Regions from separate parts of the Homo sapiens genome. Here region 2 is linked to region 1. Evidence: fine-mapped expression QTL. Tissue or cell type: whole blood. Region 1 holds a variant in brackets; the other region holds the start of a gene. All regions are shown on one strand. Distances are between the middles of the regions.

Evidence for each region. PIP is the estimated chance that this variant, and not a neighbour inherited with it, causes the effect.
Region 2: it holds the start of RNFT2, and the variant in region 1 is fine-mapped to the expression of RNFT2 in whole blood (TOPMed, PIP 0.97). The same link has a PIP of 0.9 or more in nasal epithelium.

Annotation. Positions count from the first base shown.
Region 1 is chr12:116,752,653-116,768,513 of GRCh38, forward strand. RNFT2 (ring finger protein, transmembrane 2) reads left to right here. Exons shown (of 11, transcript NM_001382266.1): 5 at 1,332-1,408; 6 at 14,162-14,262. It also overlaps the pseudogene RPL21P105. Among named protein-coding and RNA genes, the nearest start is that of RNFT2, 22 kb to the left of the region's middle. RefSeq lists enhancers at 6,969-7,553, 7,079-8,278. The variant T/A (reference allele first, on the strand shown) is at 7,269.
Region 2 is chr12:116,733,858-116,747,701 of GRCh38, forward strand. It overlaps RNFT2 (ring finger protein, transmembrane 2), which reads left to right and starts at 4,458. Exons shown (of 11, transcript NM_001382266.1): 1 at 4,458-4,513; 2 at 6,488-6,664; 3 at 7,179-7,237. The coding sequence starts at 6,641. SPRING1 (SREBF pathway regulator in golgi 1) reads right to left here and starts at 4,212. Exons shown (of 5, transcript NM_024738.4): 1 at 3,933-4,212. The coding sequence starts at 4,043. RefSeq lists enhancers at 2,754-3,712, 4,481-4,740 and silencers at 3,901-3,950, 4,031-4,290.

The sequences.
Region 1 (15,861 bases):
GGATCACTTGAGGTCAGGAATTCGAGACCAGCCTGGCCAACATGGTGAAACCCCATCTCTACTAATAATTCAAAAATTAGCCAGGTGTGGTGGCACACACCTGTAGTCCCAGCTACTCGGGAGGCTGAGGCACAAGAATCACTTGAACCCAGGAGGTGGAGGTTGCAGTGAGCTGAGATCGCACCACTGCACTCCAGCCTGGGCGACAGAGTGAGACAGTGTCTCAATAAATAAACAGTAAGTGCATCAGGTGAAAGAGGAATCCTGTCTACAAATAACAAAAAGCAGGACTCGAAAATCATTATTTGGGGAGAATTCCAAGATTGTAGCTTGGCAAACAGTGGCAATGAAATGACTGGTGGAAGAAAATTCAATTCCGTTCTGCCATCTGCCTGGGTCATGTTTGTCTGTTAGCTGGGATTTTTTTTTCTCATTGAACATTAAACTTGAATTCCTTATGGCGTTGTAAGTTTTTTCTTTTTCTTTTTTCTTTTTCTTTTTTTTTTTTTTTTTTTTGAGACAGAGTCTTGCTCTGTTGCCCAGGCTGGAGTGCAGTGGTGTGATCTCAATTCACTGCAGCCTCCCCATCCTGGGTTCAAGCAGTTCTTGTGCCTCAGCCTCCTGGGTAGCTGTGACTACAGGCACATGCCACCATGTGTGGCTAATTTTTGTATTTTTACTAGAGATGTGATTTCACCATGTTGGCCAGGCTGGTCTCAAACTCCTGGCCTCAAGTGATCTGCCCACCTCGGCCTCCCAAAGTGCTGGGATTACAAGTGTGTGCCACTGCACCCAGCGGTGAGTTTTTTCAATGTATGCTTTTATCACAAATTCTATCTGATTCTATCAATCAGATTCTTTTTAAAAGTAGAAATAATAAGAGGCATCATTCACTAACTGCTAGGGATTATGATCTAGAAGCTTTATCCCTCTATGAGGTATAAGTAATGTTATTGTTCTGTCCATTTTACAGATGAGGAAACTGGGGCTTAGAGAGGTGCGGTGACTTGCCCAAGCTCAAACAGAGAGGAAGTGGCAGAGCTGGGAATTGAACCCAGCCCTTACCAGACTGCACAGCCCATCCCCTGATCCAGTGCTATAAAGTATCCCCACAGGGACCTAAATCCTGTCCCTAAGTCAGAATGGCTCAGAATTCCCAGAGATTTAGATGGCAGCCCAAATCCCCAAGAAGTGGGATTTTTTTTATTTTTCTCTCTCTTCTGTCAACTCTGAGGGGACCAGGGATGTGCCTTTTCCCCCATGTTGCTCAGCACCTGGGCTAGGCCTGATGAGTCTAAGTGGGTGACATCAGGCCCTTCTCTGTCCCACAGGCATTGCTGTGTGCATCGGGATGGCCAGCACCTTCGCCTATGCCAACTCCACGCTTCGAGAACAGGTCTCACTGAAGGTGAGTCACTTTCCGACCTAGTCTCCTGTGGCTGCTGCAACAAATAAGCCACAAGCCAGGCACAGTCTTCCCGGCAAGTCTCCAGAGTTCATTGTATCATTCTTATGCCTTTGCGTCCTCATAGCTTAACTCCCACATATCAGTGAGAACGTACAATGTTTGGTTTTCCATTCCTGAGTTACATCACTTAGAATAATAGTTTCCAATCTCATCCAGGTCACTGCAAGTGCTGTTAATTCATTCCTTTTTATGGCTGTGTAGCATTCCACCATGTATATATGTATATACATATATATACACCACAATTTCTTTATACACCCGTTGATTGGTGGGCATTTGGGTTGGTTCCACAATTTTAAAATTGTGAATTGTGCTGCTATAAACTTGCGTGTGCAAGTATCTTTTTTGAATAATGACTTCTTTTCCTCTGGGTAGATACCCAGTAGTGGGATTGCTGGATCAAATGGTAGTTCTACTTTTAGTTCTTTGAAGAATCTCTCACACTGTTTTTCATAGCGGTTGTACTAGTTTACATTCCCACCAGCAGTGTAGACGTGTTCCCTGTCCACCGCATTCACACTAGCATCTATTGTTTTTTGACTTTTTGATTATGGCCATTCTTGCAGGAGTGAGGTGGTATCACATTGTGGTTTTGATTTGCATTTCCCTGATCATTAGCAGCGTTAAGCATTTTTTCATGTTTGTTGGCCATTTGTATATCTTCTTTTGAAAATTGTCTATTCATGTTCTTAGCCCACTTTTTGATGGGATTGTTTGTTTTTTTCTTACTGATTTGTTTGAGTTTGTTGTAGATTCCGGATATTAGTCCTTTGTCAGATGTACAGATTGTGAAGATTTTCTCCCACTCTGTGGGTTGTCTGTTTACTCTGCTGACTGTTCCTTTTGCTGTGCAAAAGCTCTTTAGTTTAATTAGGTCCCAGCTATTTATCTTTGTTTTTATTGCATTTCCTTTTGGGTTCTTGGTCATGAAATCCTTGCCTAAGCCAATGTCTAGAAGGGTTTTTCCAATGTTATCTTCTAGAATTTTTATAGTTTTAGGTCCTAGGTTGAAATCCTTAATCCATCTTGAATTGATTTTTGTATAAGGTGAGAGATGAGGATCCAGTTTCACTCTCCTACATGTGGCTAGCCAATTATCCCAGCACCATTTGTTGAAAAGGGTGTCCTTTCCCCACTTTATGTTTTTGTTATGTTCAGTTAGCTGTAAGTATTTTGGTTTATTTCTGGGTTCTCTATTCTGTTCCATTGGTCTATGTCCCTATTTTTTTTTATAGCCCAGAGGTCTTTTTTTTTTTTTTTTTTAACACCTATTATGCCATGAATTCACAGGGAATAGGTTCCAGCAGCTCAGGCTCCTTCCCATTGGCTCTCACAAAGTGTGCTTCTCTGGGTGGAGCAGGCTGGCGCTTGAGTTGAACCCAGGTACCTTTCTCTTCCGCTTCTTTCTTTTTCTGATCATTTTCCTTCATGCATTTCAGGAAGCTATCTCGGCTCTCAGAGTGCTTAATGTGCTCAATATGCACATTAATTCTCTCGGCAAGAATCTTGCCCTTAACTTGTTTGTTTACAACAATGCCAACAGCATGCTGGGTAACATTGTAGACTCTTCCAGTTTTGCCATGGTAACACTTACGGGGCATTCCTTTTTGAACAGTACCCATTCCCTTGATGTCTACGATATCACCTTTCTTATAGATTCACATATACATGGCCAAAGGAACAACTCCATGTTTTCTAAAAGGCCTAGAGAACATATATCGGGTGCCTCTCCTCTTTCCCTTTGTGTTCGTCATTTTGGCGAATTACTAGAAGATGGCAGTTCCGGCTGAAAGGAAAAGATATGTCCTTATTTTTGTACCAGTACCATGCTGTTTTGGTGACTATGGCCTTATAGTATAGGTTGAAATCAGGTAGTGTGATGCCTCCAGCTTTTTCTTTTTGCTTAGTCTTGCTTCAGTTATGTGGGCTCTTTTCTGGTTCCATATGAATTTTGGAATTTTTTTTTTCTAATTCTGTGAAGAATGATGGTAGTATTTTGATGAGGATTGCATTGAATTTGTAGATTGCTTTTGGCAGTAGGGTCATTTTCACAGTATTGATTCTACCCATTCATGAGCATGGGATGTGTTTCCATTTGTTCGTGTCATCTATGATTTCTTTCAGCAATGTTTTGTAGTTGTCCTTGTAGAGGTTTTTCAACTCCGTGGTTAGGTATATTCCTAAGGTTTTTTTTTGTTTTTTGTTTTTTGTTTTGCAGCTATTGTAAAAGGGGTTGAGTTCTTGATGTGATTCTCTACTTGGTCGCCGTTGGTGTATAAAAGAGCTACTGACTTCTGTACATTAATCTTGTATCTGGAAAGTTTGTTTTATATTGGCTGTGGGTTTATCATAGATGGCTTTTATTACACTAAGGTATGTCCCTTGTATGCCATTTTGCTGAGAGTTTTAATCATAAAGGGATGCTGGATTTTGTCAAATGCTTTTTCTGCATCTATTGAAATGATCATGTGATTTTTGTTTTTAATTCTGTTTACGTGGTGTATCACATTTATTGACTTGTGCATGTTAAACCATCCCTGCATCCCTGGTATGAAACCCACTTGATCATGGTGGATTATCTTTTTGGTAATTTGTTGGATTCGGTTAGCAAGTATTTTGTTAAGGATTTTAGCATCTATGTTCATCAAGGATATCCATCTGTAGTTTTCTTTTTTGGTTATGTCCTTTCCTGGTTTTGGTATTAGGGTGATGCTGGCTTCATAGAATGAATTAGGGAGGGTTCCTTCTTTCTCTATCTTGTGGAATAATGTTAAAAAGATTGGTACCAATTCTTCGAATGTCTGGTAGAATTCTGCTGTGAATCTGTCTGGTCCTGAACTTTTTTTTGTTGGTAATTTTTAAATTACCATTTCAATCTCGCTGCTTGTTATTGGTCTGTTTAGGGTATCTAGTTCTTTCTGATTTAAGCGAGAAGGGTTGTATTTTTCCAGGAATTTATCCATCTCTTCTAGGTTTTCTAGTTTTTGTGCATAAAGGTGTTCATAGTAGCCTTGATTGGCCTTTTATATTTCAGTGGTGTCACTTGAAATATCTCCTGTTTCGTTTCTTAGTGAGGTCATTGGATTTTCTCTCTTCTTTTCTTGGTTAATCTTGCTAATGGTCTATCAGTTTTATTTATCTTTTCAAAGAATCAGCTTCTTGTTTCGTTTATCTTTTGAATTTTTTTGTTTCAATTTCATTTAGTTCTGCTCTGATCTTGGTTATTTCCTTTCTTCTGCTGGGTTTGGATTTGGTTTCTTCTTGTTTCTCTAGTTCCTTGAGGGGTGACCTTGGAGTGTCAGTTTGTGCTCTTTCAGTCTTTTTGATGTAAGCATTTAGGGCTATGAGCTTTCCTATTAGCACCACCTTTGCCATATCCCAGAGGTTTTGATAGGTTGTGTCATTATTGTCATTCAGTTTGAAGAATTTTTTAATTTCCATCTTGATGTCATTTTTGATCCAATGCTCATTCAGGAGCAGGTTATTTAATTTCCATGTGTTTGCATGGTTTTGAAGGTTCCTTTGGGAGTTGATTTCCAGTTTTATTCTGCCGTGGTCTGAGAGAGTACTTGATATAATTTCAATTTTCTTAAATTTATTGAGGCTCGTTTTGTGGCCTATCATATAGTCTATCTTGGAGAAAGTTCCATGCGCTGTTGAATAGAATGTGTATTCTGCGGTTGTCAGATGAAATGTTCTGTATGTATCTGTTAAATCCATTTGTTCCAAGGTATAGTTTAAATCCATTGTTTCTTTGTTGACTTTCTGTCTTGATGACCTGTCTAGTGCTGCCAGTGGAATACTGAAGTCCCCTACTATTACTATGTTGCTGTCAATCTCATTTCTTAGGTCTGTTAGTCATTGTTTTATAAATGTGGGAGCTCCAGTGTTAGGTGCATATATATTTAGAATTGTGATATTTTCCTGTTGGACAAGGCCTTTTACCATTATATAATGTCCCTCTTTGTCTCTTTTAACCACTGTTGCTTTAAAGTTTGTTTTGTCTGATATAAGAATAGCTACCCCTGCTTGCTTTTGGTGTCCATTTGCATGAAATGCCTTTTTCCACCCCTTTAAGTTTATGTGAGTCCTTATGTGTTAGGTGAGTCACCTGAAGGCAGCAGATGGTTGGTTGGTGAGTTCTTATCTATTCTGTGATTCTGTGTCTTTTAAGTGGAGCATTTAGGCCACTTACATTCAATGTTAGTATTGAAATGTGAGGTACCATTGCATTCATCATGCTCTTTGTTGCCTGTGTACTTTGGTTTTTTCATTTTTTGTTTTTGCTTTTTAACTTGTATTTTTGTTTTATGGTCCTGTGTGATTTATGCTTTAAAGAGGGTCTGTTGTGATGTGTTTCCAGGATTTGTTTCAAGATTTAGAGCTCCTTTTAGCAGTTCTTATAGTGGTGACTTGGTAATGGCAAATTCTTGGTAATGGGTGAATTCTCTTAGCATTTGTTTGTCTGAAAATACTGTATCTTTCCTTCATATATGATTGTTAGTTTCACTGGATACAAAATTCTTGGCTAATCATTGTTTTGTTTGAGGAGGCTGAAGATAGGGCCCCAATCCCTTCTAGCTTGTAGGGTTTCTGCTGAGAAATCTGCTGTTAATCTGATGGGTTTTCCTTTATAGGTTAGCTGGTGCTTCTGTCTCACAGCTCTTAAGATTGTTTCCTTCGTTTTAACTTTGGATAACCTGATGACAGTGTGCCTAGGCAAAGACCTTTTTGCGATGAATTTCCCGGGTGTTCTTTGTGCTTCTTGTATTTGGATGTCTAGGTCTCTAGCAAGGCCGGGGACGTTTTCCTCGATTATTCCCCCAAATATGTTTTCCAAGCTTTCAGAATTCTCTTCTTCAGGAACACTGATTATTCTTAGGTTTGGTCATTTAACATAATCCCAGACTTCTTGGAGGCTTTGTTCATATTTTCTTATTCCCTTTTCTTTGTCTTTGTTGGATTGGGTTAATTCAAAGACCTTGTCTTCGAGCTCTGAATTTCTTTCTTCTACTTGTTCAATTCTATTGCCGAGACTTTCCAGAGCATTTCGCATTTCTAAAAATGTGTCCAAAGTTTCCTGAATTTTTAATAGTTTTTTCTTTAAGCTATCTATTTCCTTGAATATTTCTCCCTTCACTTCTTGTATCATATTTTGGAATTCGTTGCACTGGGCTTTGCCTTTCTCTGGTCCCTCCCTGATTAGCTTAATAACTAACTTTCTGAATTCTTTTTCAGGTAAATCAGGGATTTCTTCTTGGTTTAGATCCATTGCTGGTGAACTAGTGTGATTTTGGGGGAGTGTTGAAGAGCCTTGTTTTGTCATATTACCAGGGATGGTTTTCTGGTTCCTTCTCATTTGGGTAGACTCCGTCAGACGGAAGGTCTAGGGCTGAAGGCTGTTGTTCAGATTCTTTTGTCCCAGGGGGTTTTCCCTCTTTTTGGTACTCTTCCCCCTTTTCCTATGGATGTGGCTTCCTGTGAGCCAAACTGCAGTGATTGTTGTCTGTCTTCTGGGTCTAGCCACCCAGCGAGTCTACCTGGCTCCAGGCTGGTACTGGGGGTTGTCTGCACAGAGTCCTGTGATGTGAACTGTCTATGGGTCTCTCAGCCATGGATACCAGTGCCTGTTGCCATGGAGGTGGTGGAGGGTGCAATGGACTCCGTGAGGGTTCTTAGCTTTGGTGGTTTAATGCGCTATTTTTGTGCTGGTTGGCCTCCTGCCAGGAGGTGGCGCTTTCCAGAGAGCATCAGCTGTGGTAGCGTGGCGAGGAACCCGTGGAGCTCTAGAACTCTCGAG[T/A]TTCTATGGCCTTTGTCTTCCGCTACCAGGGTGGGTAGGAGGGAAGGACCATCGGGTTGGGGTGAGGCTAGGCGTTTCTGACCTCTCACTCTCCTTGGGCGGGTCTTGCTATGGGTTAAGTAGATGACATTCCCAGGTCACTGGTGTTGTGTACCAAGGAGGATTATGGTTGCTTCTGCTGAGTCATGCAGGTTGTCAGGGAAGTGGGGGAAAGCTGGCAGTCACAGGCCTCACCCAGCTCCCCTGCAAAACGAAGGGCCGGTCTCACTCCCACCATGCCCACCACAACAGCCCCCAGACCATTTCCAGGTGGAGAGCGATAGGGGCTTGAAAACCTGCCCCAGACTATCCGCCTCCCAGCTGCCAAAGAAGAGGGTTTAGTTCGTGCCGCCGCTGTGGAGTCTGCACACTGGATTTGCACCCTCCCCTGAGTTCTGGCCAGGAGGCTTCTTACCCTGTTCAAATTGTTACACAGTTCAGCTAGAGATTTGCTTCTCCCTGTGGAGTTTTAGCCCTTGCTCCTACCCATTGGATCCCCGTGGTGCCAGACAGGAATGGGCTGCTGGGGGACCCAGTGAGCTCCCAGGGCCTTGCTGCTGCTTCCTCTACGCCTGTATTTTGCTTGGCTTTCCAAATTGACTCAGCGCCAGATAAAGTTGGAAACTTCTCCTGCAAACAGACCTTCAGCTTCCCCCGTGAGGGTGAGTGTTCGGGAGAGGAGGGTCTCCCTTTCCCACTTCCGCAGTTGGGGCATTCGCAGTTTTGGGGGGCTCTCCTGGGTCCTGCAGGAGCAGTCCGTTTCCTTCAGAGAGTCTGTGGGTCCTCTCGGGATTGCTGGTTTGTCCTTGCAGTCAATCTGGTGCTAAAATTCACAATGCGAGCTGCCGCCCGCTGCTCTCTCTGGAGCTGCAATCTAGTCCTGCCTCCCATCCGCCATGATCTCACCAAAACCTCTTCTTTTATTTCATAATTTTTAGAGACAGAGTCTTGCTCTGTTGTCCAGGCTGCAGTGCAGTGGCATGACCATAGCTCATTGTAGCCTCCAACTCCCGGATTCAAGCAATCCTCTGACCTCAGCCTCCTAGGGAGGCCATTCTTCGGTCTATCACCCCTGGGTAGATCCCTGAATGTTCCTTCTTTCTCCCCTCCAACAGCAGCATCTCCTCCACGTACACCTAGCCCAGTCCCTTTACGCCGCAGACATTCAGCTCATTAGCTCACTTTCATTTTTTGTTTTTTTCTTTTTGAGACGGAATCTTGCTCTGTTGCCCAGACTGGAGTGCAGTGGCATGATCTTGGCGCACTGTAACCTCTGCCTCCCAGGTTCAAGCAATTCCTCTGCCTCAGTCTCCCCAGTAGCTGGGACTACAGACACACACCACCACGCCTAGCTAATTTTGTATTTTTAGTAGAGACGGGGTTTCACCATGTTGGCCAGGCTGGTCTCAAACTCCTGACCTCCGGTAATCCGCACACCTTGGCCTCCAAAAGTGCTGGGTTTACAGGCGTGAGCCACCATGCCTGGCCCCATTAGGTTACTTTCATTCCACCTTCATGCTTATGGCCATTCCTCTTATGCTGCTGGGTGGACATAGAGCTTCACCACCATCCTCCTGCATGTCCTCTGTGTCTGCTGAGCACTAACTGCGTGCCCGGCACAGTACTGAGCCCATTGCTCATCTCAGCAGGTTCATCCCAGCAACCTGGGAGGGAAACAAAATCATTTTTCTGTCATTTTCCCACTGAGGAAACAGTGGCTCAGAGACACTAAGTTCCTTACCTGAGGTCACACAGCCAGTGCAAGTGATGGCATCATGATTTGCACCTGGGTAGTTGAGCCCGTGCTCATTCCAGGTTCAAATCCCTGCTCCTCCACCCACCTGCAGACCCTCAATTAGGTTACCTTGGTGATCTCAGCCTCAGGTGCCGCCTCTGGAAAAGAGCCTGTTGGCACCAATTCACAAACCCATTGAAAGGATTGAATGAAATAGTGCATCCAGGCCGGTCGCGGTGGCTCACGCCTGTAATCCCAACTACTCAGAAGGCTGAGGCATGAGAATCATTTGAATCTGGGAGGCAGAGGTTGCAGTGAGCCGAGATCACACCACCACCCTCCAACCCGGGTGACAGAGTGAGACTGTCTCAAAAAAAAAAAAAAAACAGAAAAAAAGAAAAGAGCCAGGCACTGTGGCTCATGCATGCAATCCCAGCATTTTGGGAGGCCAAGGCAGGTGGATCACTTGAGGTCAGGAGTTTGAGACCAGCCTGAACAACGTGGTGAAACCCCGTCTCTACTAAAAAGATACAAAATTAGCCAGCCATGGTGGCTCACACCTGTAATCCCAGCTACTTGGGAGGCTGAGGCAGGAGAATTGCTTGAACCTGGGAGGTGGAGGTTGAAGTGAGCCAAGATTGTGTCATTGCACACCAGCCTGGGTTGAGATGGTTTGATGGTTTGAGATGGTTTCACTCCATCTCAAAACAAAAAAAAAAAACAAAGAAAGAAATAGTGCATACAAGGTGTTTAGCACAAGTACTGGGTATGGTGGCCTATGCCTGTAATCCCAGCAACTCAGGAGGCTGAGGCGGGAGGATCCCTTGAACCCAGGAGTTTGAGACCAGTCTGGGCAACATAGCAAGACCCCTTTCTTCTCTACCAATTTTTTTTTTTTTTTTTGAGATGAAGTCTCACTCTGTCACCCAGGCTGGAGTGCAGTGGTGCAATCTCGGCTCACTGCAACCTCTGCCTCCCAAGTAGCGAGATTACAGGTGTGCACCACCAAGATTACCAAGTGATTCTCCTGCCTCAGCCTCCTGAGTAGCTGAGATTACAGGTGCATGCCACCATGCCTGGCTAATTTTTATATTTTTAGTAGAGATGGGGTTTCACCACGTTGGCCAGGCTGGTCTTGAACACTTGACCTCAGGTGATCCGACCACCTCAGCCTCCCAAAGTGCTGGGATTACAGGCGTGAGCCACCATACCTGGCTTGCAAAAGTTTTTTTAAAAAGTTAGCCAGGTGTGGGGGCATGTGCCTGTCATCCTAGCTACTCAGGAGGCTGAAGCAGGAGGATTGCTTGATCCCAGGAGTTTGAGGCTGCAGTGAGCTATGATTGCACCACTGCACTCTAGCCTGGGCAACAGAACAAGACCTTCTCTGTTTAAGAAAAAATAAAAAGAAGGCAATGTTTAGCATGGTGCCTGGCATGTAGGAAACATTTAATTGAGCTAGTTTTCAAAAGTCTGTGCTTTCAGAAAAAAAAAAAAAATCTCATCAGAAAGTGGCCTAAGGATGTTAATAGGCAATTCTCAAAAGAAGATATACAAATGGCCAACAAACTTATGAAAAAATGCTCAGCATCACTACCGATCAGGGAAATGCAAATCAAAACCACAATGCAGTACCACCTTACTCCAGCAAGAATGGCCATTATCAAAAAATCAAAAAATAATAGATGTCGGCATGAATGCGGGAACACTTCTGCACTGCTGGTGGGAATGTAAACTAGTACAACCACTATGGAAAACAGTGTGGAGATTCCTTAAAGAACTAAAAGTAGAACTAGGTGGGGCGCAGTGGCTCACGCCTGTAATCCCAGCACTTTGGGAGGCTGAGGTGGGTGGATCACAAGGTCAGGAGATCGAGACCATCCTGGCTAACACAGTGAAACCCCATCTCAGTTAAAAAAAAAAATAACAAAAAAAAAATTAGCTGGATGTGGTGGCAGACGCCTGTAGTCCCAGCTACTCGGGAGGCTGAGGCAGGAGAATGGCGTGAACCTGGGAGTTGGAACTTGCAGTGAGCCGAGATCGCGCCACTGCACTCCAGCCTGGGTGACAGAGCGAGACTCCATCTCAAAAAAAAAAGGGGGCGGGGGGGGAAAGAACTAAAAGTAGAACTACCATTTGATCCAGCAATCCTACTACTAGGCATCTACCCAGAGGAAAAGAAGTCATTATACGAAAAAAATACTTACATACTCATGTTTATAGCAGCACAATTCACAATTTCAAAAATGTAGAACCATCCCAAATGCCCATCAACCAATGAGTGGGTAAAGAAACTGGTATATGTATATGATGGAATTCTACTCAGCCATAAAAAGGAATGAATTAATGGAATTCGCAGCAACCTGGATGGGATTGGAGACTATTATTCTAAGTAAAGTAACTCAGGAATGAAAAGCTAAACCTTTTGTATGTTCTCACTCATAAGTGGTAGCTAAGCTATGAGGATGCAAAGGCATAAGAATGATACAGTGGACTTTGGGGACTCTGGGGGAAAGAGTGGGAAGGGAGTGAGGGATTAAAGACTACAAATTGGGTTCAGTGTATACTGCCCAGGTGATGGGTGCACGAAAATCTCACAAATCACCACAAAAGAACTTATTCATGTAATACCACCTGTTCACCAAAAACCTATGGAAATAATTTTTTTTTTAAAGTCTGTGCTTTCTCCTGCACAGGTGATCCCATAATAATCACCAGCTTCACTGACCCTTCTATAGCATCGTCTGCTTTCTCAAAAGCACTTGGGCCTCCATGCAGCATGGAGGACAACCCAGTCTCCATTTGCACATGAGCACATTGAGGTTCGGAGTTGGGGACAGAGTCAGAGGTCCTTCCTGACCCTTAGTCTCATCTTCTTTATGCAAACTCCTTTCTGCTGTTGTTAAAACAGTAGGAGGGGGCAAGGACAGTGGCTCACGCCTATAATCCCAGCACTTTGGGAGGCTGAGACAGGTAGATCACCTGAGTTCAGCAGTTCGAGACCAGCTTGGCCAACATGGTGAAACCCCGTCTCTACTAAAAATACAAAAATTAGCTGGGCATGGTGGTGGGCGCCTGTAATCCCAGCCACTTGGGAGGCTGAGGCAGGAGAACCACTTGAACCCAGGAGGCGGAGGTTGCAATGAGCTGAGATTGCGCCACTACACTCCAGCCTGGGCAACAAGAGCGAAAGTCCGTCTCAAAAACAAACAAACAAAACAGTAGGAGGCAGCTTTGGGGGCTAGGTCTGTCTCAAATGCAGTAACATCCAAATGGCACCTTGACTTAAATTTTAGGAGCTGAGAGGATCTCTGTATCCATGGACGGGCCTCCAGGGGTCCTTGATGCTCATGAAGACACAGGTGACACTTTGCCTGTATGTGCGTATCTTCCATAAGAGCAGGTCTACATGGCCCTTAGTAAGCTTAGGCGTCGCAGCTGATTAGGAGAGAACTACCTCCTTTGTCCTTCAGTTTCTGTCTTCCCAGAACATTGCTAATTCCCTCTTCCTATTCCACCTTTGGTTTGGATTCATAGAGAATTAAACTGGAATCTATTATTCATTGGAGTAAAAAGAGCTGCCAGGTGGATTAATCACATTGATAAGAGCAGTTGGTTGGTTGGAGGTGGTTTCTAGCATCATTAACCTTGACTGCTCCTGGAATAATGGGTGGATGGAGATGCATTTGTTTCGTCCACTCTCTGGAAATGTGCATCATAACAGTGCGTGGGGCACTGAGCTGTGTCTGGAGACACTGTGTATTGAGCATTTACCGAAACCACAGGGAAGGTTACACTGGGAAAGTTATGACCTCATCTTATTCCAGCAATGCAGCCACTCCAGTCTGAAAAAAGGCACGAGCTGTTGAGAATCAACAGCAGAGGGATCTGCCTATGTGTCCCAGGGTACATAGGCAGGAACACGCCCCCCTTTGCATCTCCTTCAGACATTTCCTAGGATTGCTGTCAGGCTATGAAACTGCTGGGAAACAGCAAACTGAGGATTTCCAATTTGTCTTCCTGGGGACTAGACAGGAATGAGGCTGAAGAAGGAGAAATGGGGCTGGATTGTGAAGGGCTTTGAGAATTAGGTATATAAGCTTGGATTTAATTCTACACTGTGGCATTCCATGGAATGGTCAGTCCAGGGCAGCGGGCCAGAGGTCTTCCCTAGAAAAAGTGAAAGCAGAAATTTCCAGCCTCTAGATCTGAATCTTCTGCTGGGTTGTAAACTCTTAATAATCAGTCCTACCCCTTAGCAAGCTTTAAATATGAATCTGTACCAGACTGAATGTTTGCATTTAAAAATTTGACTTTTGCCTGTAATTCCAGTGTTTTGGGAGCCCAAGGCAGGAGGATCACTTGAGGCCAGGAGTTCAAGACCAGCCTGAGCCAAATAGCAAGACTCTGTCTCTAAAAAAAAATAAAAATTTTTTTTTAATTAGCCAGGTATAGTGACACCTGCCTGTGGTGCTAGCTACTTAGGATGCTGAGGCAGGAGGATCACTTGAGCCCAGGAGTTCAAGGTTACAGTGAGCTATGATCACACTACTGTACTCCAGCCTAGGGAACAGAAAAAAAAATTAAAATAAAAAATTTGATTTAATCTTTAACAACCCCATTTTCAAATGAAGACACTGAGACTTAAAACACAGCCCCTTGAGGTTTCTTAACCTCTCTGTGCTTTAGTTCTTAACAGCATTTTATGTACTTTAATTCTTACAACTCTATAAGGTAGATACTAAGATATACCCATTTTACAGATGAGGAAAGGGAAACTGAAAGAGTTTAAATAACTTGCCTGGAGTTGGACAGCTCCCACACAGGATTTGACCAGGGATTTGAATGTGTGCCATGCTGCTCTGGAGTCTGCTGCGAACCATGGTGTTCTCTTGCCTTTCTAGATAGTTTTTCAAGCAGATGTCCACCATTCTGCCACCTTCTCCGTGACCACCGCTTGGGTATCAGTGGAATAGAAAGGTGCCAATGCCCTTCCTTTCACCTTCAGCACCACTTCCTTCAAAATGTTGACAAAGTGAAAAGCTGCCAGTCATCAGGGTACATTCTGGAAGGTTCTGCCACATGCACCTTTGATATCACATATCTCTTGCTTTGTCTTCAGGAGAAGAGGTCAGTGCTGGTCATCTTGTGGATCCTGGCCTTTCTGGCGGGGAACACCCTCTATGTGCTTTATACATTCAGCTCCCAGCAGCTGTACAACAGGTGAGCATGGGAATCCAACCCCCACGGTGGGAGAGTGGGGCACTTGGCTGGGCTTGGGGCACGTACCCTTTCACTTGAGAATGAGGCACAAGCTCTATGTCATGTTGTAACTTCCAAATTCCACCCTGCTGTTACTACTTATATATATCTAGACCAGCACTCAATAGTAGAATTTCAAGGCAAGCCACATAGGTAAATTAACATCTTCTAGTTACTGAAAACTAAACAGAAACAGGTGGAATCAATTATAATAATTGATTTTATTTAACCCAGTATATCAAAAATATTTGTTTTTTGTTTTGTCTGTTTGTTTTGCTTTTTTTTTGAGACAGGATCTCACTGCATCACCCAGGCTGGCAGTGGTGTGATCATGGCTCACTGCAGCCTCGACCTCCCAGGGCTCAGGTGATCCTCCCACCTCAGCTTCCCAAGTAGCTGGTACTACAAGTGCATGCCACCACACCTGGCTAATTTTTACATTTTTTGTAGAGATGGGGTTTCCCTGTGTTGCCCAGGCTGGGCTCGGACCTCTGAGCTCAGGCAATCCACCTGCCTTGGCCTCCCAAAGTGCTGGGATTGATTACAGGTGTGAGTCGCCGCACCTGGCCCCGAAAGATTGTCATTTCAACATACGATCGATATAAAAATTATGTTTTTTTTTTGTTTGTTTTTTCTTGTTTTTTGAGACAGAGTCTCACTCTGTCGCCCAGGCTGGAGTGCAGTGGCACGATCTCAGCTCACTGCAATCTCCGCCTCCCAGGTTCAAGCAGTTCTCCTGCCTCAGCCTCCCAAGTAGCTGGGATTACAGACATGCGCCACCACGCCCAGCGAATTTTTGTATTTTTAGTAGAGACAGGGTTTCACCATATTGGTCAAGCTGGTCTCAAACTCCTGACCTCGTGATCCACCTGCCTTGGCCTCCCAAAGTGCTGGGATTACAGGCGTGAGCCACTGCCCCTGGTTTTACATTCTTTTTTCACGTTAACTCTTTGTAATCTGGTATCTTACATATACAGCTCATGTCAGTTCCAACTAACCACATTTCAAGTGTTCAAAATGGTTAGTGAACACTGTATGAATAGTGCAGGTCTGGAATATTTCTGGAAGGACAACCAAGAAACTAGAAATAATAATTGCCTCTTGGTGGGCACTGGAGATCAGAAACTTACTTTGCACAGTTTGGCCTTTTTTTTTTTTTTTTGGAGATGGAGTTTCACTCTTTGTTGCCCAGGCTGGGGTGCAGTGGTGCAATCCCGGCTCACTGCAACCTATGCCTCCCAGGTTCAAGTGATTCTCCTGTCTCAGCCTCTTGAGTAGCTGGGATTACAGGCACCTGCCACCATGCCCAGCTAATTCTTGTATTTTTCATAGAGATGGGGTTTCACCATGTTGGCCAGGCTGGTCTCGAACTCCTGACCTCAGGTGATCCGCCGGCCTTGGCCTCCCAAAGTGCTGGGATTACAGGCATGAGCCACCGCACCCAGCCCAGTTTGGCCTTTTATATTACAGTCATGTGTCACGTAATGATGTTTCTGTCAACGATGGACCATATAGACAACAGTGGTCCCATAAGGTTATAATGGAGCTAGAAAATTCTAT
Region 2 (13,844 bases), 20 kb before region 1:
TCTTTATGGGCGTACCATTTTTACTCTTATATTTTTTGAAACACAGTCTCACTCTGTTGCCCAGGCTGGAGTGCAGTGGCGTGATCTCGGCTCACTGCAACCTCCACCTCCCAGGTTCAAGCGACTCTCCTGCCTCAGCCTCCTGCATAGCTGGGATTACAGGCGTGTGCCACCACACCTGGCTAATTTTTATATTTTTAGTAGAGATGGGGTTTTGCCATGTTGGCCAGGCTGGTCTCGAACTCCTGACGTCAAGTGATCTGCCTGCCTCAGACTCCCAAACTGCTAGGATTACAGGCGTGAGCCATCGCACCCAGCCCATTTTATATCTTTTATACAGTATTTTTACTGTACCTTTTCTATGTTTAGATCTATTTAGATCCACAAATACCTTCCATCGTGTTGCAATCACCTACAGTATTCAGTACAGTCACATGCTGTACAGGCTTAGAGCCTAGGAGGAATAGGCTATGCCACATAGCCCAGGGGTGTAGCAAAATCACCTAAAGATGCATTTTTCAGAATCTTGAGCGACGCATGACTATAATCTTAAAATGAAGATGATGTATCAGGGTAGTGAAAAGGTGGTTGTAGGGAAGGTGACAGAGTGGACAGCACCTGAGCCAAGAGGTGAAAGGTTAGCAGAAGTATGCCAGACTGAAAAGAAACATTCATCCCAGTTAAAAAGACTCACTTGTTTGTTCAATCAATATTTGGATTCCCATGAAGTGGCTGGCAGTATCCTAGGGGCTGGAGAGTCTATGAACAAGACAGACAAGGTCTCTGTTCTCAAGAATATTATAGTCTAGAAGAGAGAGTGAGGCAAGACAGATAAGCAAGTAAATGAACAAGAAATGTTCAGTTTGTGATGCCTACCACAAAGAAAATAAAGCAGGTTTATGAGCAAGGAATTGAAGTAATTTACACCGTGTCACCAGGTATGGTCTGAAGCAGTAACAGTCTGACCTGAAATGACAAAAAAGATTCAACCATGCAGAGATCCTGGAAGACAATCCAGAGTTTTATCTGAGAATTTTACCTGGGGAAATGCCATGATGATCCCATCTTTTTAAAGATTATCACCCCTACTGCGGGGAAGAGAAGAAGACAAGAATGGAAGCAGAGACTTGCAGCTGGGCTACTGCAGTGGTCCAGACGAGAGATGCCAGTGGCTTGGCCTAGAGTGACAGCAGTGACACTCTGAAGAAATGAGCAGATTCAGGATACACTCTGGAGGCAGAGCCAATATTGTGGATATAGGGAGTGAGAGGAGAAAAAAAGAATGAAGTGGCTTTAATACCTGGTGAACAGTAATGCCACTGAGCGAGACTGGGAAGACTCGGGGAGGAACAAGTGCTGGCAGAGAATCAAGAGTTCTGTTGGTCCAAACACGAACACATTCAACGTCAACTAGAAAGTAGGAGGGTGGTTGCCGGGGGCTGGGGAAAGGGAGAAATGGAGAGTTATTGTTAAATGAATATTAAGTTTCAGTTTCTACAAGCGTTATGGGGATGGATGGTGGTGATGGTCGCACAGCGTTAAGGATGTATTTAATACCACTGAACTGCACACTTTAAAAATGGTTAAGATGGGGCCGGGCGTGGTGGCTGACACCTGTAATCCCAGCACTTTGGGAGGCCGAGGCAGGTGGATCACTTGAGGTCAGGAGTTCGAGACCAGCCTGGCCAACATGGCGAAACCCTGTCTCTATTAAAAATACAAAAATTAGTCGGGTGTGGTGGTGCATGCCTGTAATCCCAGCTACTCAGGAGGCTAAGGCAGGGAGAACTGCTTGAACCCGAGAGGTAGAGGTTGCAGTGAGCTGAGATCATGCCACTACACTCCAGCCTGGGTAACAGAGTGAGACTCCATGTTAAAAAAGGTTAAGATGGGAAATTCTGGCCAGGCGTGGTGGCTCACACCTGTAATCCCAGCACTTTGGGAGGCTGAGGTGGGTGGATCACCTGAGGTCGGGAGTTCAAGACCAGCCATGACCAACATGGAGAAACCCCGTTTCTACTAAAAATACAAAATTAGCTGGGCATGGTGGCGCATGCCTGTAATCCCAGCTACTCAAGAAGGCTGAGGCAGGAGAATCATTTGAACCCGGGAGGTGGAGGCTGTGGTGAGTTGAGGTCGTCCCACTGCACTCCAGCCTGGGCAAGAGCAAAACTCAGTCTTTAAAAAAAAAAAAAAAAAAAAAAAAAAAAGATGGGAAATTTTATGTCGTATTTTACCACAATAAAAAAAAATTGAAAAAAAAAAAAGATATCAACTAGGCAATTGGATATAAGAATTTGGGGATTTCTGGACAGATCTAGGCTGTTGTTATCAACTACTGGCATCAACAGCATACCTCCAGAGATCACCTGAGTATTTAAACAATGGCCCAGAGATTACCTGAGTCAGATAGAGAGGAAGGCAGAGGACGGAGTCCTGGCGCACCCCACCACTCAGGGGTCACAAGACAGAGAAGGGACAACACGCGACTGTGAGGAGGTGTCTGAGGTGGCAGAAAACACAAGTCACAGAAGTCTGGTAGTCACATGATTGCCCAGACATCCCGGCCAATAAAAGGGACTTACAACACTCAGCCTCTCTGTTTGCCTAAGGTGGCAGGTCACGTACAATTCCCTATTCTTCCCTTTTCACAGCTCCCCTGCCAATCCACTAAATGTAGAGTGACCACATAGTTTTATCAATGTTCTATTCACTTATATATTTTATTTACACACTTGAGCTTTGAGAGTAAAAAGGAGAGCTTTTTATAACCATGTCAGGACAACAGCATAACCCATTATCCTGGGTGCACCCTGGGGTGTAACCACCCTTTCTACACAACTAAGCACTCAACCTGGACTTCTAGACAAACTTATTAATGCTTTGGGTAAGATTTCCCCACCCGTGCTCCTTGCTGTTTCTCCCAGAAATTCTCACATGGAAGAAAAATGAAAGGGTGCAGTGTGTTGGAGGGGTGGAATTCTACCAATCAAGTTATGCACAAAAAGCATAAAAGGAACTGTGGGTCCTTTTGAGTCACCCAGGAGGACACAGAGCCCCCAAATTAAACGAAGGGCACCCATGCGAGGGCTGGCCGACCCTCGCCACCTATGTCTTGGTTTCCCCCACTGTAATACTGGGAACCCCACTTCTCCCAGGCCTGCTGCGAAGATGAAGCCAGCAAATGCACGCCCTCTCTTAGCTCTGGACCGGGCAGGTGAAAAGCAGGGAGGTGTTCATAAAAGCAGTCCCCACCGCTGAAGGGTCCTCAACTCGGGGTTCTAGTCCCAGCTCTGCCCTGGCCTAGCAACCCCTTCCCGCTGCAGGGACCAAGGCGGTGGGCAGGTCCCTCACCCGTGCTGAGACCGGGACAGGAATGCGCACCTCTCCCCACCCTCGGACGCCCCGGCGGCGCCGCTGCAGAAGTCGGGAGGTCGGACAAACGCGAGGAGTAAGGAAAAAGAGGAGGAAGGGAAGGAAGGAGGAAGAACGAAGTGAGGAAAGAGGATGTCAGGGAAGAAAGGGAGTAAAGGAAGAAGGAAGGGAGAGGGGGACAGAAAGGAGGAGGACGGAAGGAGGAAGGGAAGGAAGAAAGACGGAAGGGAAGGGAGAGGAAAAAGGGGAGGAAAGAAGAAAGGGAAGGGGGAGGAAGGAAAGGGGGAGGAAGGAAGGAGGAGGAAGGTGAGGAAGGTAAGGAAGGAAGGGAGGCAGGGAGAGGGGAAGGAAGGAGGAAGATAAGGAAGGAGGGGAGGTAGGAAGAAGGGAAGGAAGGAGGAAGGAAGGGAAGGGGAGAAAGAAAGGAAGGGAAGGGGTAGGAAGACAGGGAGGAAGGAAAAAAGGAGGAAGGTAACGAAGGAAGGAAGGAGAAAGTAAAGTAAGGGGGAGGAAGGAAGGAAGAAGGGAAGGGGAGGAGGGGAAGGGCGGCCACTGACCTGCTTGAAGGTGCTGCTGAGGAAGTAGACGAGCGACAGCCCGAAGACCAGGGCGAGCACCCACCTCTTCCGCAGAAGCCGGCGCCACACCATGGCCGCCAGGTTCACCATCCCGGCGCGGACGTGGGGCGCGGCGGCCGGGGCGCGGAACGCGGCAGGCCCGGGTCCCGGGCGGCATGGCCCCTACGCGCCCGGCAGCCCCATCCCTCCAGGCAGGCGCCGGCCCCGCCGCCCGCAGCCCAGTCTGCTCCCGGCAGCCTTGGGCGCAGCCCCACGTGACCCCGCCCTACGCCCCGCCTCCGCTCCGCAGCGACAAGGGCTAGTCGCGCAAGATCTTCTCACCATTGGTCCCTAAGGAACGGCGGCCTCCTATTGGTTAAGTGCCGGGAAAGGGGGCGGACAATCGCGTGAGTGCTGCGGGCGTAGCTGTGCCCGGGTCCTAGCGCCGGACCCGGCGACGCCAAGAAACCACCCAATAGGAGGCCGGAAGCATCGGAAGTCACATGCTGCCCAGGCTGCGCGGGTGATTGGCTTGGCTGGACCTGAATGATGCGGCTGTGATTGCTGAATTGTCTGGGCAGGTAAAAAGAGAACGCGATTTTTTTTTCTTTTCTCCCATCATGGTCTGTGTAGTCTCCTGCCCTTGCAGTCCCAGAGCGTTTTGCGCTGTGTGTTGGTTGCAGGGATGAAAAGCGCTCGCGACGTTGTTCCCGAAGTGCACCTGCCGGCTTCCAGTCCAAGTGATGCAGGCGATGCTCCTCTGAGTGCATTTCGGTGCAGTCCTGTAACGGGCCCCAGGGGCGCAACTTGAACCATCGCAAGCATCGAAAAGTCTCGGTGCGGTCCTTCAAAGGGACATAGTGGGATGTACAGAGCAGAGGATTAAAAAGCGTTTCATTCATTCAGATGCATCCCGCGTGCAAAAATTTATTCCAGAATTATGTACGGCCTGCTTCCGACAAAGAATCCGAAGCCTCTTCCAATACAAGCATCCGAAAGTAGAGTTTCGAGCATTCGATTTAGGAGTTAAATGTGTGGATGAGAACTTTGGAATATGAATTTTATTTTCCCCCAAGGATTTGCAATGTGGGATAATGGAGGGAGGGGCGAGAGGAGGATTAAGTTGAGATTGCAAATTCTTGAAAAATATTTATATAATGACCTTTTCTTGATATATGAAGATGCTGCTGCTGACCGGTTTGTTACCTAATTTTTCAAAAGAGAAAGGAGGCTTCACTGGCGGGTCATTTTTAATCAGTGGCCCTAGTGACACCATTGCTGCCCCCTCAAGAAGCCTGGTCAGGATTAGGAAGTCATTCAACAGCCAATAATCGTGCCCTAAACTGAAGTCAGACACCATCTGACTGATATAGACACCCTATATCCACAATATTGGCTCTGCCTCCAGAGACAAGAAGATATTCACGGAGGCTAAACCTTTTCATGGGAAGTAGATGGCCCTTATTACCTTGCTAGGGTGAAAGGTGGGACAGGGAGCAAGGGATCTAGAAAAGGGGAACTGGGAGACCCATAGATGTTTTATTCATTGAGTAAATACTTGTTGAGCGCCACTCTGTGCCAAACAGTGTCCTGGATGCTGAGGCAGAGGGGTGATCCAAGTAGACAGGATCCCTACTTTCAGGAATGGCATTTATATTCTAATGGGGAGGACAAATCATAAATAAATAAGCAAACATGAACAAATAAGTGCTATGAATAATATAAAACAGGGCAATATTACGGGGAGTCAGGAGAATGAGAAGAGAAGGCCTCTGGGAAGAGACGACATTTGCCCTGCGGGACCAAGCCCTGCCACATTTAGAGGAGAAAGTATTCCAAGGGGAGGGCACAGCAAGTGCAAAGGCCCTGAGGCAGGGACACGCTGACACATTAGAGGAACAGAAGGGCCACTGTGGGTGGACAGGAGTGGGAAAAGGGAGAATGGGAGGAAATGCAGTTGGAAACAGATGATGCTACATCAGGAAGAACCCGTAGGCTATGGACAGAGCTCGGGTTTGATTCTGATTGCACTGGGCAGCCGTTGGAGGGTTTAAAACATATTTTCTGGCTTCCCCAATCAGGACTCTTAGTTTGACAATAGGATGAAATACAATACCTTAAGAGTTTCAAAGAGGGCCGGGCATGGTGGCTTATGCCTGTAATCCCAGCACTTTGGGAGGCCAAGGCAGGCGGATCACTTGAGGTCAGAAGTTTGAGACCAGCCTGGCCAATATGGTGAAATCCCATCTCTACTAAAAATACAAAAATTGGGTGGGCGTGGTGTCGCATGCCTGTAAGCCTGTAATTTCAGCCACTCAGGAGGCTGAGGCAGGAGAATCGCTTGAACCTGGGAGGCAGAGGTTGCAGTGAGCCAAGATCGCACCACTCCGTCTTAAAAAAAAAAAAGGAGTTTCAAGGGGGGATCACTGAGAGGCTACCCAGAGATACTGAGCAGATGGAATCATCTGCTTATAGCTACCAACAATGTCCTAAGGCTTCTTAGCAGATTCAAGGTATCGCAGGGACTGTTCATCCAGGTGTTCTGTTCCATCCAGGTTTGGAGTCTCTGGCAAGCTCCCCTGACTGTGCATCCCTCTGGAGACGAAGAGGAGGGGGAGGCCTGTCCTCTCTGGGATCCATTGGTCACATCCCCCTGAGGATTCCCGAATGCCTACCTCCAGTGTCGTCAACATGGAGTTCTGAAGTCCATGTGGCTCTTCACAGTGAATCAGGTGACACGTCTCCAAGAGAATTTGCATCTTTATTACTACTTGATTAAATGTGAGAGCTGGAAGGAAGTTTTGGTTTGACCACTCCACCCCTCCCATGTAACACATGGGGAATCTGAACCCACAGAGGGGTTACTGATTTGTCTAGGGTCACAGCAAGTTAGCAGCAGCATCAACCCAGAATCCATGTCTCCTGCCAGTCCGCTGCCCACTTCACTTCATCCAGCACCTCTTGGCTGCACAGTTTACCGCGTTATCCTCTCACATGAGGACTTTCTCCACCTCTGAGTCTCATCGTCCTCCTCTGTGAAATGGGGTGATAGCTTTCCTCATGGGATAGAATGTCACATTGAGGATGGAATGGCATGAAAGATTGAAACATACTTTGGAAAATGCCAGAGAGCACTAGGGGTCTAAGATACGACTAGTGCAGGTTTGCAGTTTACAATTACCTTGGCAATCTGACAGGCAGTGGGAGTGTTGGGAGACTCTGGCTCACCCATGTGTTGGGTTTTAGGTGTTAAGGAAGATGCAGAGACGCCACAGCAGCAACACGGATAACATTCCACCTGAAAGGTAGGCATCCCTGCTTCTGTTCCATCTGAGGGCTCTAGGCTTCGGGTGGTGAGGGGCAACCCAAAACTGGATTGAACAATACCTCACCCTCAGCGTTAGTTGTTAGAGTCACACTGATGGCCTCATACTAAACATTCAACGCATAATAGCTTGCTCTTTCTTTTATGCTAAATTTCAAAGTCCTGTGTGATAGGTGAGCCACCTGACTCATTGTATCAATGAATGTACCTGTGGAATTTTGATTTATAGAGATGTCTTAGTCCATACAGGCTGCTATCACAAAAATATCATAGAATGGGTGGTTTAAACAACAAATGTTTATCTCTCACAGTGCTGGAAGCTAGGAAGTCCAAGATGAAAGCTCCAGCATATTCAGTGTCTGCGAAAGGCCCACTTTCTGGTTCACTGATGGCCATTCTTTTGCTATGTCTTAATGTGGTGAAGGGAAAGGGATCTCTCTGGGTCTCCTTTTTAAGGGCACTAATCCCATTCGTGAAGAGCCCATCTCATCACCTAATCATTCCCAAAGGCCCACCTTCCAATACGATCAAATTACAGGTTAGGTTTCTTTTTTGAGAGAGAGTCTTGCTCTGTTACCCAGGCTGGAGTGCAGTGGTGATCATGGCTCACTATAGCCTCCAAATCCTAGGCTCAAGCAATCCTCCTGCCTCAGCCTCCTGAGTAGCTGGGACTACAGGCATGTGCCACCATACCTAGCTAATTTTTAAAATTTTTTGGTAGAGACGGGGTCTCACTAAGTTGTCCAGACTGGCCTCAAACTCCTGGGCTCAAGCGATCTTCCTACCTTGATCTCTCAAAGCCCTGGGATTATAGGTGTGAACCACTGCACCTGGCATGGGTTAGGTTTCAACATAAGAATCTACACAAACATTGAGATCATAGCTCTGAGAAACAACACGGAGAGGCTAATGACATTGAAAGATGAGATTTTTATTTCTTCCATTTCTCAAGATGAAGGGGCATACTACTGCTTGCAGGGCCACCTGGGGAAGCACCAGCAATAGTCAGAGGGCAGAAAGGACCGAGGAAAAAGCATAGGCCACAGCCTTTATTGTGTTTTCTGGGGGAAAGAAAGGCAAGGCAGGGGCAATAGTTTAGGACTGGCTAGTTTGAATCATGTTGGTGGGCTCTGGGGTACCGAGGTGGTTTCTTTTTTTTTTTTTTTTTTTTGAGATAGGATCTCCCTCTGTTGCCCAGGCTAGAATGCAGTGGCACGATCTCGGCTCACTGCAGCCTCGACCTCTCAGGCTCAAGCAATCCTCCTACCTCTCAGCCTTCCGAGTAGCTGGGACTAAAGGCATGCACCACCATGCCCGGCTAATTTTTGTATTTGTAGGGACAGGGTTTTGTTATGTTTCCCAGGCTAGTCTCAAACTCCCGGGCTCAAGCGATCTGTCCGACTTGGCCGCCCAAGCTCCTGCTCGCTGGGATTATAAGCGCAAGCCACCACGCCTGGCCTCAAGGTGCTCTTTAGTTTGGTGTCTGGCCCTAGATGATTTAGGACAGGAGAAATATTGGCTGCGTGTGTAAAACTTAGATGAAGGAAGGGCCATGCAGTGACTCACGCCTGTAATCCCAACACTTTGGGAGACCAAGGTGGGAGGATAACCTGAGTCCAGGAGTTAGTTGGAGACCAGCCTAGGTGACATGAGGAGATCCTGTCTCTACTAAAAAACTTTAAAACTAGCCACGTATGGTGGTGCATACCTATAGTCTCAGCACTTTGGGAAGCCAAGGTGAGAGGATTGCTTGAGCCCAGAAGTTTGAGATCAGCCTGGGCAAAATAGGGAGACCCTATCTCTACAAAAAATAAAAACTTACCCAGCATGGTGGCATGCATCTGTGGTCCTAGTTATGCAGGAGGCAGAGGTGGGAGGATTGCTTGAGCCCAGGAGGTGGAGGTTGCAGTGAGCTATGATTGCACCACTGCATTCCAGCCTGGGCAACAGAGTGAGACCCTATCTCAAAAAAAAAAAAAAAAAAAAAAAAAAGGTTAAATGAAGCAGTGGTTGGGGTTATGGGCTCTGGATCACAAGGACATGTAAATAACTTTGGCCGTTAGTTTGGCCCTGTGATTAATAGATACCAGGTAGAATCTAAAAAAAAAAAAAAAAAAAAAAAAAAAAAAACCGGTTAAAAAACACTCATGAGCTAGAATTTTTTTTTTTTGAGATGGAGTCTTGCTCTGTCACCAAGGCTGGAGTGCAGTAGTACAATCTCAGCTCACTACAACTTCCGCCTCCTGGGTTCAAGCTACTCTCATGCCTCTGTCTCCCGAGTAGTTGGGACCATAGGCACGCACCACCACGTTTGGCTAATTTTTTTGTATTTTAGTAGAGATGGGGTTTCACCATGTTGGCTAGGCTGGTCTCGAACTCCTGAGCTTGGGCAGTCTGCCCACCTCAGCCTCCCAAGGGGCTGGGATTACAGGCATGAGCCACTGCACCCAGCCTAGAATTTATATCTATTGAAACCCAAGAGGGAACACACCTGGGGGCCTGTTCTCAGATTGGGACAGCCTCCAGCCCCAGAAGCCCTGTCCTAGCACATACATCCAAGGGGCGGGCAGCCAAGCCTTCCCTTCCTCACATCCCATACCCCCTGCGACTCTGGGGTTGGCTACAGAATCACAAATGGTATCCCCCGGTCCCAGCACTGGGACTGAGTTTTGTATGGTGCCTGCCTGTTCTGCAGGGAAGAACACGGGGCTCAGCCAAACCCCAGCTCAGCCACTTCCCACCTGTGGTGACTTTGATACATGACTTCACCCCTAGGTCTCAGCTTCTCCATCCAAAAATGGCAGGTAACAGAACTCAAGAGTTGCTTATGGGCCAGGCATGGTGGCTTATGCCTGTAATCCCAGCACTTTGCGGGGGTAAGGCAGGCTGATCACCTGAGATCAGGAGTTTGAGACCAGCCTGGCCAACATGCTGAAACCCCATCTCTACTAAAAATACAAAAATTAGCCAGTGTGGTGGCAGATGCCTGTAGTCCCAGCTACCCAGGAGGCTGAGGAAGGAGAACCACTTGAACCCTGGAGGTGGAGGCTGCAACGAGCAGAGATCATGCGACTGCACTCTAGCCTGGGTGACAGAGTGAGACTCCTCCTCAAAAAAAAAAAAAAAAAAGAGTTGTTTATGGATGAAGGAGTGAGTGTGAAGATGCAGAAACAGCATCCGGCTTGTAATAAGCCTGCCTGTTGGAACCTTTTCCGCCTCTAAAGACAACATTGTCATCTGCTCTCAAGTGAACCATGAGATCTCTTGCGGGCAGAGAGCACAGCAGGAAACTCAAACCGTGTATTGAGTGCTTATGCTGTGCCAACCGCCACATTAGCCCAGTGAGAGCACCCATTTTACAAATGCAGAAGCTGAGGCTCAGAGAGGGGAAGGAAATTACCTAAAGTCACACAGCCAGGAAGTAGCAGGGCTGAGATTTGGGCCCCCATCCCTGTGTCCCCCAGCACCTGTGCTTTGAGATAGCACATTTTGGCTGCCTAGTGTCTGAGCAGAACCACTTTTCCTCCTGGGTTGCCTCAAGCTCTGGCGCTTAAGTGGTTAAGTTGGAAGCACAGCCTCTGTCCCCCTAAGGAATATTCTTTCCCAGTCAGGCTGAAATCTCGGCTGGATGCAGGGGAGAGGCCCAGGGAAGGGAGGCCAGCTATAAAAAGCCCCTTGGTGAGTTGAGTCTTCCCTGGTTGTACTGGAGGCCCCTGAGCCCAGTGAACTCAGAGTGCTGGCAAGCTCAAGGGGGACAGGATGGCTTTCTAGGGCCCCTTGGGTGGCCACGGAGAGAGAGTGGCCTCCTCATGGACCAACATGGGTACCTGCCAGGGCTCTTGCTTTCTGAGCTGAGCTCTTTGAAGTGCAGAAAAAGCTCAAGGCCCCTTGAGGATCATAGCCATGGTGTTTGCTGTTGTTGTCATTATTAATATTATCATTATTATTATCCAGAGCCCAGTGGAGGAGGAGCGCATATTTCCTGGGCTTTTGGAGCCAGCAGGGGTGGGGCTTGGTGAGGGAGGGAATCCAATCGTGAGTTTCCTCCATTGCACCAGATTTTTTTTTTTTTTTTTTTGAGATAGAGTCTCACTGTGTTGCCCAGGCTGGAGTGCAGTGGCACAATCTCAGCTCACTGCAACCTTTGCCTCCCCGGTTCAAGCGATTCTCCTGCCGCAGCCTCCTGAGTAGCTAGGATTATAGGCATGCACCACCATGCCCGGCTAATTTTTGTATTTTTAGTAGAGAGGGTTTTTTGCCATATTGGCCAGGCTGGTCTCAAACTCCTGGCCTCAAGTGATTCTCCCACCTCAGCCTCCCGAAGTGCTGGGATTACATGTGTGAGCCACCACACCCAGCCTGCTTCAAACTCCTGACCTCAAGTGATCTGCCCACCTCAGCCTCCCAAAGTGCTGGGATTATAGGCATGAGCCACCATGCCTGGCCTCACTAGGTTTTTAGTAACATACCTGCAGGCCCAGTTTGTGCAGCCAGGGAAACCACCGTGTCCCACTGCTGTGTGTCACAGGTGTTCTGCAAGCTGTTAAATGGTTTTTCATGGATAAAAAGAATTCTGTGGTCAAATAAGTTTGGGGAACACTGGGCTTAAGCAAAGTCCATTATTTCACTTGCAGGCCTTCTCAGAGCGTTTAGTATGCCTGTTCATGTATTCTTTCAAACACTTTTTATTAAGCATGTTCTGAGTGCCAGGTGCATTGTGCCGGGTGGTAAAGATACAGTGGGGAGCAAGGTTATGGTCTTTGACCTTGTGGAGTGGAGCTCTGTCCAAAGCTATGGTTTGCAGCACTGACCACACATTAGAATCACTGTAGCGGGGGGCAGTGGGGAATGGTGGCTCATGCTTGTAATCCCAGCACTTTGGGAGGCCAAGGCGGGTGGATCACTTGAGCTCCGGAGTTCGAGACCAGCTTGGCCAACATGGTGAAAACCCATCTCTACAGAAAATACAAAAATTAGCCAAGCATAGTGGCGCACACCTGTAATCCCAGCTACTCGGGAGGCTGAGGCATAAGAATCACTTGAGCCCGGGAGGCAGAGGTTGCAGTGAGCCGAGATCGCGCCACTGCACTCTAGCCTGGGTGACAGAGGGAGACCCTGCTCAAAAAAAAACAAGAATCACTGAGGGGACTCTGAGTAACTTCAGGTGCTGGGGCCCACCCATAAAGATTTTGATTCAGTTGGTCTCCAGTGGGGTCGGGGCACCTGTCTTTTGCAAAAGCTCCCCCAAGTGATTATAATATATGGCCAGGATTGAGAGCCACAGGTCTCAAGGGAAAGATGAGGAATAAAATAACAGCTGTGATCAATCCTGTGCAGGTGACATGAGGGTGCAGTGAGAGCAAGGAGCAGGGGACTGTCATTGTCTAGGAAGGAGTGAAGCCTCAATCCAGGGAGGGAGATTTTAGCTGAAATCTGACAGATGAGCGTGCATTACCTAGTTGGGATGGGGTACGGGTTAGGGGAGACATCCGGTGAAGGTGATAGCCTGTAGTAGAAAGCCCTTGAATGATGAGAAAGGGGCACATGATAAGATTGGAGTTTGGAGTCAAATAATCCAGGGCGCCTGGCAACTTCATCTCTCTGAGCCTCAGTTTGTTTGTCAGTAAGGAACATGATATTTGGGAATGATATTTGTACCTGTCTAGAGGGTTCCTCTGAGACCATGGGAAGGAACACAGAATGGGAAGCCCTGGGAGGGCTTTTAGTGGGATCGTGAAATAATCAAATACAGTCAGCCCTCCATATTCATGGGGGAATTGGTTCCAAGACCCCACGGATATGATAATATGCAGCTGCTGAAGTCCCTGGTATAAAATGGCTAGGACAGTCAGCCTTTTGTATCTGTGGGTTTTGGTCCACGACTCAAGGTTGGTTGAATCCTTAAATACAGATGCTGGACATATGTGTTTTATTATTATTTATTCATTTACTTATTTATTGAGAAAGCATCTTGCTCTGTCACCCAGCCTGGAGTGCAGTGGCGTGATCTTAACTCACTGCAACCTCCACCTCCTGGGCTCAAGCCATCCTCCCACCTCAGCCTCCCCACTAGCTGGGACTACAGGTGCGTGCCACCATGCCTGGCTACTTTTTAATTTTTTGTAGAGACAGGTTCTTGCAATGTTGCCCAGGCTGGTCTTGAACTCCTGGGCTCAAGCAATCTGCCCACCTTGGCCTCCCAAAGTGCTGGGATTATAGGCGTGAGCCACCATGGCTGGTCTTTTATATATTTTAAAACATATTTCCTGGAGCCAATTGCAGTGGCACATGCCTATAATCCCAGCTACTCAGGAGGCTGAGGTGGGAGGATCACTTGAGCCCAGGAGTTTGAGGCTCTAGGGAGCTATGATCACACTATTCCAGCCTGGGCAACAGAGTGAGACCCCCGTCTCACTCTGTGGATAATGGTCTCATATAATAGATGATATGAGATCAAGTATGAAAACAGTGGAAAATTTCCACCAAAGCCTCCCTCCTGCTGCCATTTCGGACTGAATAACATCTGGCATACATTTATTAAGCACCTACTGTGTGCCCTGGGTTGTGGGGTCCAGAGGATGAATGAA